Homo sapiens: one gene and its partners. The protein of the gene in region 3 interacts with the protein of the main gene of each other region in a pairwise test. Each region holds a gene or a part of one and is shown on either strand. Other genes may lie near its edges. The genes, in order: ZC2HC1C, TCEANC and KATNBL1.

Evidence for each region.
Region 1: the proteins of KATNBL1 (region 3) and ZC2HC1C interact in binary tests that used the Homo sapiens proteins (3 or more experiments, as listed by UniProt).
Region 2: the proteins of KATNBL1 (region 3) and TCEANC interact in binary tests that used the Homo sapiens proteins (3 or more experiments, as listed by UniProt).

The regions. Positions count from the first base shown.
Region 1 is NC_000014.9:75,072,462-75,076,140, reverse strand, and holds part of ZC2HC1C (zinc finger C2HC domain-containing protein 1C), read right to left. Parts: intron 1-3,679.
Region 2 is NC_000023.11:13,659,530-13,663,140, reverse strand, and holds part of TCEANC (transcription elongation factor A N-terminal and central domain-containing protein), read right to left. Parts: intron 3,490-3,611; 5' UTR 3,455-3,489; coding exon of another isoform or gene 3,373-3,454; intron 2,111-3,372; 5' UTR 2,019-2,110; intron 641-2,018; coding exon of another isoform or gene 633-640; coding exon 1-632.
Region 3 is NC_000015.10:34,200,065-34,203,743, forward strand, and holds part of KATNBL1 (KATNB1-like protein 1), read right to left. Parts: intron 1-3,679.

The DNA of each region.
Region 1 (3,679 bases), on a different chromosome or scaffold from region 3:
AAGAGTTGCAGAAGGAACAGAGAAAGCACGAGGAGAAAATTATTGTTGTTTTGTTTTGTTTTGTTTTTGTTGTTGTTGTTATTTGAGATGGAGTCTTGCTTTGTCACCCAGGCTGGAGTGCAGTGGCGCAATCTTGGTTGACTGCAACGTCAGCCTCCTAGATTCAAGCGATTCTCCTATCTCAGCCTCCCAAGTAGCTGAGACTACAGGCGTGCGCCACCACGCCCGGCTAATTTTTGTATTTTTAGTAGAGATGGGGTTTCACCATATTGGTCAGGCTGGTCTTGAACACATGAGATCAGGTGATCCACCTGCCTCAGCCTCCCAAAGTACTGGGATTATAGGCGTGAGCCACAGCACCTGGTGAGGAGAAAATTATTAAGGAAATAATACAATTAACATTCCTAGAATTAAAGGTCACACATTTTGAGATTGAAATGGCTTACCAAGTATCTAGCACAATTATTGTAAAGTTTCAGAATTTCAAAATAAATAGAGAATCCCGTAGCCTTTTAAAAAAAAAGGTTTCTTGTAATGGAACAGGAATCAAAATGGCATTAGATTTCACAACAATACACTGGATGCTAAAAGCTAGTGGGAAATACTTTAAAAGTTCTAACAGATAATCATTTTCCTCCTAGAATTCTGTACCTAGCCAAATCATCAAATGGGAGCCTGTCATATAGATAGTGTCATTCATTCCAAGACAATATACCTGCTATGCACCCTTCTTAGTAAGCTTCAGCAAAGGAAGGAGTAATGCAAGAAAAAGGAAGACACAGGATGCTGGAAACAGAGGACCCAACAAAGAAGAGAAGCAAAGAGAAGTTCCAAGAGAATGAGTTTGCACCAGGCCTAGAGAATACCCAGTCCAGGTTGGAGCAGAAGGGATCAGAGTGGCTGAAGGGAGGTTTTCAGAATTAAAAAATCAAACTGATAGATTATGAGAGGTGTTTGAGCATTACAAAAACGTTAACAGATGTCTGATATCAGATGGATCGTTGCGGGGGAGAAAAAGACAGGTATGTAGAAAATGAAGGAAATGAAAACATACGTCCATTATTAATTTTAGGTACATGTGGGCAGAGACAGAATTTGTTCACTCATTAATGAACAAAATTTACTTGATCATTACAATGTGAAAGCTAACTACTTTTAACCAAAAATTGTGATTCGACTACAGTGGAAGGATAAGAGAAAGAGAACAGTAGGAGAGAGGGAATATGAAAGAGAACTTCACTCCCAGCTTCCATAAGAAGTTACCAGGTAGAACAGGCACCGTGGCTCACGCCTGTAATCCCAGCACTCTGGGAGGCCGAGGTGGGCAGATGACTTGAGGTTAGGAGTTCAGGACCAACTTGGCCAACTTGGTGAAACCCTGTCTTAACTAAAAATACAAAAATTAGCCGGGCGTGGTGGCACTCGCCTGTAAGCCCAGCTACTCAGGAGGCTGAGGCACAATAATTGCTTGAACACGGGAGGTGAAGGTTGCAGTAAGCCAAGATCAAGCCACTGCACTCCAGCCTGGGCGACAGAGACTCCGTCTCAAAAAAAACAAAACAAAACAAAAAAAAACAGGTAATGTAGAAAATTGATAAATCAAGAAAATAAGCATATTATTTGGAAATATGGAAAGGCAGACCAGAAGAACCATCTAACAGAACTGAAGGCTGCCTCCGGGGGCTGAATTAGGGGTTCCATTATAGGTCATTCAGTACTACATGTTTTTTAAATGCATGCAAACACTATTAAATTTTTTAAAGAGAAAAAAGACAACTAGCTCTTGGTGATCTGGCATTGTTAATGATGAATAATAGGAAGAGATACTATCAAAGGAAAAGAAAGGATCCTTCCAGAAAGTCTCTTGCCAAAACAGACAAGAAGGCAAGAGAGTATTAGCGATGGTATCCAGGAACCTTTAAAAGAATTCGAAGACCAGGCACGGTGGCTCATGCATGTAATCCCAACATTTTGGGAGGCTGAGGCGTGTGGATCACAAGGTCAGGAGTTCAAGACCAGCCTGGGCAAGATGGTGAAACCCCGTCTCTACTAAACATACAAAAATTAGCTGGGTGTGGTGGCGGGCACCTGTAATCCCAGCTACTCAGGAGACTGAGGCAGAGAATTGCTTGAACCCGGTAGGTGGAGGCTGCAGTGAGCCAAGATCGCTGCAGTGAGCCGAGATCGCGTCACTGCACTCCAGCCTGGGCAACAGGGCGAGACTCGGTCTCAAAAAAAGAATTTGATCAGGGGAAAGTTCCTCTCAAAGAATTTGATCAGGGGAAAGTTCCTCAAGTATATGAGATCCTTTAGTAATTTACTTCTTATACTCTAATTCCTATAATTTTATTCCTCATTGTACTGAAATTCTATTCAGTTAACACTTATTAAGCACAAAGCACAAAATATGTTCCCTGTCCTCAAAAATGCTTACAGTCCAGGAGAGAGACAGGGTGTACGTCTGCTGGGAGTTACGTGAAGATTAAAGGATACCAGGAAAATCACCTGTTCTTGAGTACTCTAGAGGAATGACAGGAAGGTACAACCACTCAGCTTCCAAAGGCACAGCACTGTGGAATAAGATTTGAGACATTACCAGGGTGGTGCAGGTGCATCTTAGTCTAGGTCCCTTCTGTCTTGGTGTCCTCAATGTCACACATTCCCACAAACTAGTTGCCATAAAGCTGGAGCATCTGATCTCAGGAACCTAATTATTTTGCTTCACCGTAACTGTATTTACGAATTTAAGAAACACAAGATTCTTTTAGGCTCTGGCCAAAAATAAATCGCTACAGTGGGACATAGAGTGAATTCCCAGTGGATTACTGGGTTGAACTGAAAGAAAACAGGAAAAAACAGTAAGTGGTGATCATATTATTATCTGCAAGAGCAAAATGCTGATTTCTTCTTTGGAAACTAGATTTCAGGGAGATGATCTCTGAACATGGATGGGACTTCCTTGTGATTTCTCCAAACTACTAAAAGAAAGAACTCTAATTGTAAACAATTTCTTCTAACAACCATCATATAAATGTGAGTTTTTAAAGGCTCCAGCAAATACACAGAAACTGTAAAGTGCCAATGGACAAGAGGTGCCAGCACAGCGGAGGGAGGGTTGGGAAGAAATGAAAACAGAATGACACTCTCTTATTCTTCTGGAATATTAGAACTAGATGGGGCCTCTGAGATCATATGATCTACGCTTTCCCAAACTTCAATCATCTGCACTTTCACTTCATCCTTACAACTAATTAATATTTTTCTGTAAATTCATGATCCCTGGAAATCAGGGGCTTAATATATTGTTATATTTTCCTAATATAACACTAAACGACGAATCAATTTTTCTAATACAACACTAAACACTAAAACTACTAAAATAAAGTTTGTCAGCATGCCACACCTTGAGAAATAACCATTTTATAAACCAAGTGGCACAACCTTGACATGTCATTCATTTATGAGACAATCTTCTCCAGATATGTCCAAATGTGCCTATGAAGTTCACCTAAATTTATCATGTAAGTGTCACGAAACCCTTACTTTTTCCAACCTGGTTTTTCTAAAGTGAGAAATAATTGGCAAGGGCATGGTTTGTAAGATAACCAGAAAGAAAGTCCTTTTTACCTTCAAGGTGTTTACATTCTAAATGGGCAGAAAAAGAATTCCAAACTTAATT
Region 2 (3,611 bases), on a different chromosome or scaffold from region 3:
GTAAAAACATGCTCTTCAATTTCTCTTGCAAAGTTTTGCCACAAATCAGCTTTGGGTTGATCTGTGGAAGAACTAGTTAAAGCTGCGTAAAGAAGCTCTATGCATTTAGTTCTCATGGGTGTTGTGGGATCCAGCAACTCACTCGATCTCTTGCCAGTGGATTCAGGGTCACCATCCCCAAAATGCTCTTCCTTAGGTTTCAATTGAATGGCTCTATTTTCAGGCACAATCATTTCACTGAGTTTTGCAACGTCTTGGGAAGACAGAGAATTCGAGCTGCAGATGCCCAGTGTCTCATTCTGACTTGGGTCATGAGAAGGTCCTGAATTTTCTTCTTTATTACCCCTCACAGGAAATAATTTAGGGCTGTTCCTCGCTTTGGAGTGAGTCTGCTTATAAACAGCTTTCCACTTTGATAGCAAACACTTGGCTTTCTTTTTCAAAGCCACAGAGGGGCAGTTTTTGAGGACTCTGTACACAGCTCTGACCACATCTGTCTCCTGGAGATGCTCCTTAGTCACATAAATTGTTTCTAGCTCAGTAAGGTGGTTGCCAAGATCCTCAAAATTCCTTTTGGACATCAGTTGCTCAATAAGAGAAGCTCTGGCAGCTATCTGGTTCTTGTCAGACATCTTTACAGCTGCAAAGAAAAAAGAGGTTTCAGTTTTCTTAAGTTTGCCGTTGCTAGTCGCAGCTTCTGGATACTAAAATAGCACTTTCTGTCAGTTACCTAGGCAATGTTTTCCGAAAGAGTCATGTAATACAAATGTATGCGACACGCTAGAAAATGGAATCTTTAAGGTGACGGTATGGTTTACTCTCAAGAGTTTAATTCCTACGAGTGAAAAACAAACAAACAGCATTGCAGAGCCTCTACATAACATCTGCTTAAGAGGCTTGCCGGAGGATCTGCTATAGCTTTTCCACCTCCAATTTTACAAATCAATGATCTTTCTAGATTAGTCAATCCATTTGGGCGGAATCCGGTGGTCATGTTGGAGGTGAAATCATGCCGGTGTCAGCATCAATATGGCAATGCTGAACAGTGCTAGACAATTTTTCCCCAGAGTCAGCTATATAACTGAACTACTTGCTCATTTCATAATCTTTAAAGTGGTACTCTTCTGAAAATAAAAGAGAAACAAGACAGAAAGGGTTTGCTAATGTCTCAAGCAATCTAAGGAAAATGTGAGACAGCACAGGTTGAAAAGCAGCTAGAGATACGTCTGCGGGTCCCAAAAGCCAACAGGCTACACTGTGCTGCCTTAGGAGTCTTCTGAACAAGGGAAAGGTTCAGACTCAATGATCCAGATGATTTATGACTTTAGACTAACTGGTTCTTACATTTTGGTTTTGTTAATTTTTAAAAAATTTTTAAGTGTAAAGAGTTGCTCAATGATTATGTCTGTGTGAATTTCATCCTAGGCAGGCAAATGTTTACTTTTATCTATGCAGTCTATTTTTTCCCTCCACATAATGTACATAATCTTGTCTATATAATACCCTTGGATCTATATTTATCTGTCTGGTCTAAATGTGAACATAAGCATCTTGATGGCAGGGACTGTGTCTTTTCAAAAATCCATGGGCTCTGTTTTATAGCACTTGATATTAAATAATCACCACCGAACATACACAGGCTAAGAACACTGAAGTGTTTAGAGAGAGAATTCACGCAGTCTTCCCAGACACCATATGACAAGTGACATAAAACATAATGACCTTTTAGTAATTCTACTTCCATAAATTTACTTTAAGGAAATGAGAGATGTGGAGACTGCATATGTAAGAATTTTCTTCTAAGGAGAAATTAGAAGGCCCTCAAATGGTTAAATGGAGAATGGTTAAAAATATGGCACACTCCTAGGATACAGTAATATAACCATTTAAAAATCATGTATTTAGATAATATTTAACGACATGGAAAAATGGTCATAAAGTTAGGTGAAAAACAATCAAGATGTAAAACTATATAAAAGACTAAACAGTTAACATATGGGCCGGGCATGGTGACTCACCCTGTAATCCCAGCACTTTGGGAGGCCGAGGCAGGCAGATCACGAGGTCAGGAGATCGAGACCATCCTGGCTAACATGGTGAAACCCCATCTCTACTAAAAATACAAAAAATTAGCCGGGTGTGGTGGCGGGCACCTGTAGTCCTAGCTACTTGGGAGGCTGAAGCAGGAGAATGGCATGAACCTGGAAGGCGGAGTTTGCAGTGAGCCAAGATCGTGCCACTGCACTCCAGCCTGGGCAACACAGCAAGACTCTGTCTAAAAAAAAATAATAATAAATAAATGAATAAACCAGTTATCATATGACCCAGCAGATCCAAGAGAAATGAAAACATATGTCCACACAAAAACTTGTATACAAATGTTCATAGCAGTATTATTCACAATAGCCAAAAATGGGAAATAATCGAAATGTCCATCAACTGATGAATGGATAAATAAAATGTGATTTATCCACACAACAGAATATTATTCTGCCATGAAAAGGAATGAAGTATTGATACAGTTACAACATGGATGAACCTTGAAAACATTATGCTGAGCAGAAGCAGCCAGACAGAAAAGTCCACATATTGTATGATTTTATTTACATGAAATGTCCAAAACAGGCAAATCTATAGAGACAGAAAATAGATCAGTTGTTGACTAGGTAGGGTAGGGCAGAAGGGCAGTGGGGTGAAGGAGGAGGAGCAGCTGATAAAGTTCAGGGATTTTCTTGGGAGGTGGTGGCACACATAAATCTTCTCAAGATTTATTTGTGGTGATGGGTTATACAACTGAGTATACTAAAAAACACTGAATTGTACACTTTAGGTGAACTGTATGGTGCGTGAATTACATCTGAATAAAGGTGTTATTTAAAAATAGAATTTGATCCAAATTTTATTTAAGAATTACATGTGAAAAGACTGAAAAGAGATACACAAAATTTTAAAGAGGGGCATTTTCTGAATGGTAAGATTTTAGGTAATTTTCATTTGTTATTTTCCTCTTCTGTATTTTCTGTGATGAGCATGTATTGCTTTCATAATCAGAAAAGTTATTGGTCTAACGCAATTTCATGATAAACTATATGCACTTAAGATATACCTACTGAAAAATGGTATGAGCAATGAATCAATCACCTTCTACCCACCTCCCCTCTGGAACGAGAATGTACATAACACTACTGAACTGTATACTTAAAAAGGCTTAAGACAGGCTGGGCGTGGTGGCTCACACCTGCAATCCCAGCACTTTGGGAGGCCAAGGTGGGTGGATCATGAGGTCAAGAGATCGAGTCTATCCTGGCCAACATGGTGAAACCTTGTCTCCACCAAAAATACAAAAAGTTAGCTGGATGTAGTGGCGCATACCTGTAGTCCCAGCTACTCGGAAGGCCGAGGCAGGAGAATTGCTTGAACCCGGGAGGCAGAGTTTGCGGTGAGCCGAGATCATGCCACTGCACTCCAACCTGGCGACAGAGCGAGACTCTGTCAAAAAAAAAAAAAAAAAAGGGCTTAACACAGTAAATTTTATGTTTTGTATATTTTATCACAATTAAAATTTTTTAAAGAAATATGAAGAAAAGGTCAATAAAAGAACATATAAAATG
Region 3 (3,679 bases):
TCTAGCTAGACACAGAGCACTGATGGGTGCATTTACAATCCTCTGGCTAGACAGAAAAGTTCTCCAAGTCCCCACCCAACCCAGAAACCCAGCTGGCTTCACCTCTCACCTACTCGGAACAACTCAAAGTTGATATCTCAAGGGTTTAATATTTCCTGAATGATGATTCATCACACCACTTTCTCTCTCTCTCTTCTTTTTTTTTTGAGATGGAGTCTTCCTCTGTCTCCCAGGCTGGAGTGCAGTGGCGCCATCTCGGCTCACTGCAACCTTCGCCTCCCGCATTCAAGAGATTCTCGTGCCTCAGCCTCCTGAGTAGCTGGGATTACAGGTGCGTGCCACCACGCCCAGCTAATTGTTTTTTTTTTTTGTATTTTTAGTAGAGATGGGGTTTCACCATATTGGCCAGGCTGGTCTCGAACGCCTGACCTCTTGATCCACCTGCCTCAGCCTCCCAAAATGCTGGGATTACAGGCGTGAGCCACCACGCCCCGCCCACCACTTTCTCTTAATTCAGTTTTCCACAGTAAGCTGATTTGAGAAATAACGTCAAACTCGGGAAAGCAGATCAAGCATGAAAATAAAGACAGATGTCTGGAGATTCAGTGGGTACAATACTATATCATTTCAATCAATTTGGATCAAACTGAATTCCAACTCTCTTATGACTGAGATACCCTGAAATAAAAATTACAAAAGAGATGCCAAGTGGGAATTAGCTTTCCTACTACCTCTTCCTCAGTGTTTTTGTTTTGTTTTGTTTTGTTTTTTGAGACAGCGTCTTGCTCTGTCGCCAGGCTGGAGTGCAGTGGCGCCATCTCAGCTCACTGCAACCTCTGCCTCCCAGGTTCAAGCGATTCCCCTGCCTCAGCCTCCCAAGTAGCTGGGATTACAGGTGCACACCACCACACCTGGCTAATTTTTTGTATTTTAGTAAAGACAGGGTTTCACCATGTTGGCCAGAATGGTCTCGATCTCCTGACCTCGTGATCTGCCCTCCTCGGCCTCCCAAAGTGCTGGGATTACAGGCTTGAGCCACCACACCCGGCCTCTTCCTCAGTTTTAATCAAGTCCACTTAGATTACTACATTAGGGAACTGGGACTAATAATGGGAAAATAAAATTAAAGAACTAGGTAGATGTTTATCACCATCCATAGTTGTGGACCTACACAGGCTTTTTAAAAAACATAACTATGCCTTATACTGGAAAGTAGGGAGAAAAAAGTAAGGTAGCAAAACACTATGTTACCACTTAGGTTAAAAAGTGTGTGTCTGTGAGGGACTACTTGTATATTCACTAAATATCTTTTGAAGGATATGAGAGAAACTGGGGACAAAAGTCACTTCTAGTGAGAGGATATGTGTGGCTAGGGGGTGAAGGGAGAAGACTTTTCCCTTTTGGGCCTTTTGAATTTTGTATAATGTGCAAGTATGTTTTAACTTAATTATAATGTATTAGAGTATTATATACATATTTTCTTAAATGGCTATAAAACACCTGAATCTTTGGGAAGACTTAGGACTTCTTACGCCTAGAAGTAGATGGTTATGATTATTCTAGCATGTTTTGGTGAATTCGCCAAATTCCAATTTACTTTCCCTGTTAGAATAACCCAGTATTTTCTGGAAATATTCAACAGGGAGGAAAAAATACTTGATTCTGTTTTAATTGTCTTCTTGGACTCAGAAATGGAAAATATATATACAACTGGCCCTCTGTATCCGTGGGTTCAGCATCTGTGGATTCAATCAATTCCCAATCAAAACTATTTAGAAAAAAAATACATCTCTACTGAATATGTAGACTTATTTTTCTCATCACTATTCCCCCAATAATACAGTATAACAACTATTTACATAGCATTTACATTGTACTAGATATTACAAATAATTTAGAAATTATTTAAGGTGTATGGGAGGATGTGCAAAGGTTATGTGGAAATACTACACCACTTTATATCAGGGATTTGAGCATCCTCGGATTGTGATATCATTGGGAGGTCCTGGAACCAATCGCCCATAGATAATGAGGGATGAATGTATACATACATAAAACATTGTCACTTTAAGGATCATTTTTGACCCTTGTTTGCCTACTAAAGGTATTTCTGATACTTTCAAAACCAATAGACTCTCTACATATGAGAGGATATACCAATAAAGTAGTATTCAACTCTCAAAATGATGAGCTAATATAAATTAATTAAAAAACTCTATCTTCATTATTTGGACTAATGTCACCACCCTACGACACTTGTGCCTAATTTCTACAGTACCAGAAGTCAACAGGGTTAAGTATACCCTAAGCCTTGGAAAAAAGGGTAGATCATCCTTTAAGAATTAACAAAAATGATACTAGAGACATTCAAAATCTTTTTATAACAACGGTTCTTAAACCTTTATGTTCCAAAACTTGTGAGGATTATATTACATCCCCAACAGTTACAGTGGTTGGGCACCACCATATCTCCTAGGCTGAAATCAGAACGTATATTAAGGTTTGAAAATGCCTCCTCTCTCAGGGAACACTTTCTTCTCCAACAGAAGAATCACTTGCAGGCTCAAGAAAATATGACTCCTGTGTCCAAGACTTAACTATAACAAAAATTAACATATTAACTTTCATTTAAGAATAAAATCTCGGCCAGGCGCGGTGGTTCACGCCTGTAATCTCAGCACTTTGGGAGGCCTAGGTGGGCGGATTGCCTGAGGTCCGGAGTTCGAGACCAGCCTGGCTAATACGGTGAAAACCCATCTCTACTAAAAATACAAAAATTAGCTGGGCATGGTGGCAGGCACCTGTAATCCCAGCCACTGGGGAGGCTGAGGCAGAAGAATTGCTTGAGCCCGGAAGGCGGAGGTTGCAGTAAGCCAAGATCACGCCATTGCACTCCAGCCTGGGCGACAGCAAGACTCTGTCTCAAAAAAAATAAAAATAAATAAATAAAATCTCTCATCATACTGTTTCACCTAAACTCTGGATTCAAATCTCCAACTGCCTACTAGCCAGCTCCACATGGATATCCAATAGTCATCTATTCTTGAACTTAACATATTAAAAATAGAACCCTTAATATCCCCCCTCTCAAATCTGCTCCTCCCAACAGTCCCTAACTCAGTAAACGGAACCATCCTCCTTCCAATTTCTCAAGCCTGAAATAAAGGATTCATCCTTGATTTCTTTTTTCCTTAATAACCTACATCCAATTTGTTGACTTTGCCTTTATAATATATTCCCAAGCTGTCCGTTTCTTTCCATTTCCATTACCACCATTCTAGACCAAACCACCAACTCCTTTAGACTATATAATAGCTTCCTAAATGCTTCAGCCACACTGGCCTTCTGTCCTTCAACATTTCAAACTTATTTCCATTTTGTGGCTGAGCCATTCTTTCTGCTTAAAATATTCCTCCCACACACTCACCACCCAATCAAGAATAACCCCACCCTCACTTACAATCATTCTCTATAGCAGTACCCTGTATTTTTCCCCCACCACATTTATCACCATCTGGAAATTAGCTTATGCACTTATTGCCCATGACCTCTCACTAGACTGTGAGCTCCATGAGAGCAGGAACCATGTTCATTGTACCTAGAATAGATACACTTATTCTGGTATCTATTTTTTCTTTTTTTGAGATGGAGTCTTGCTCTGTCTCCAGGCTGGAGTGCA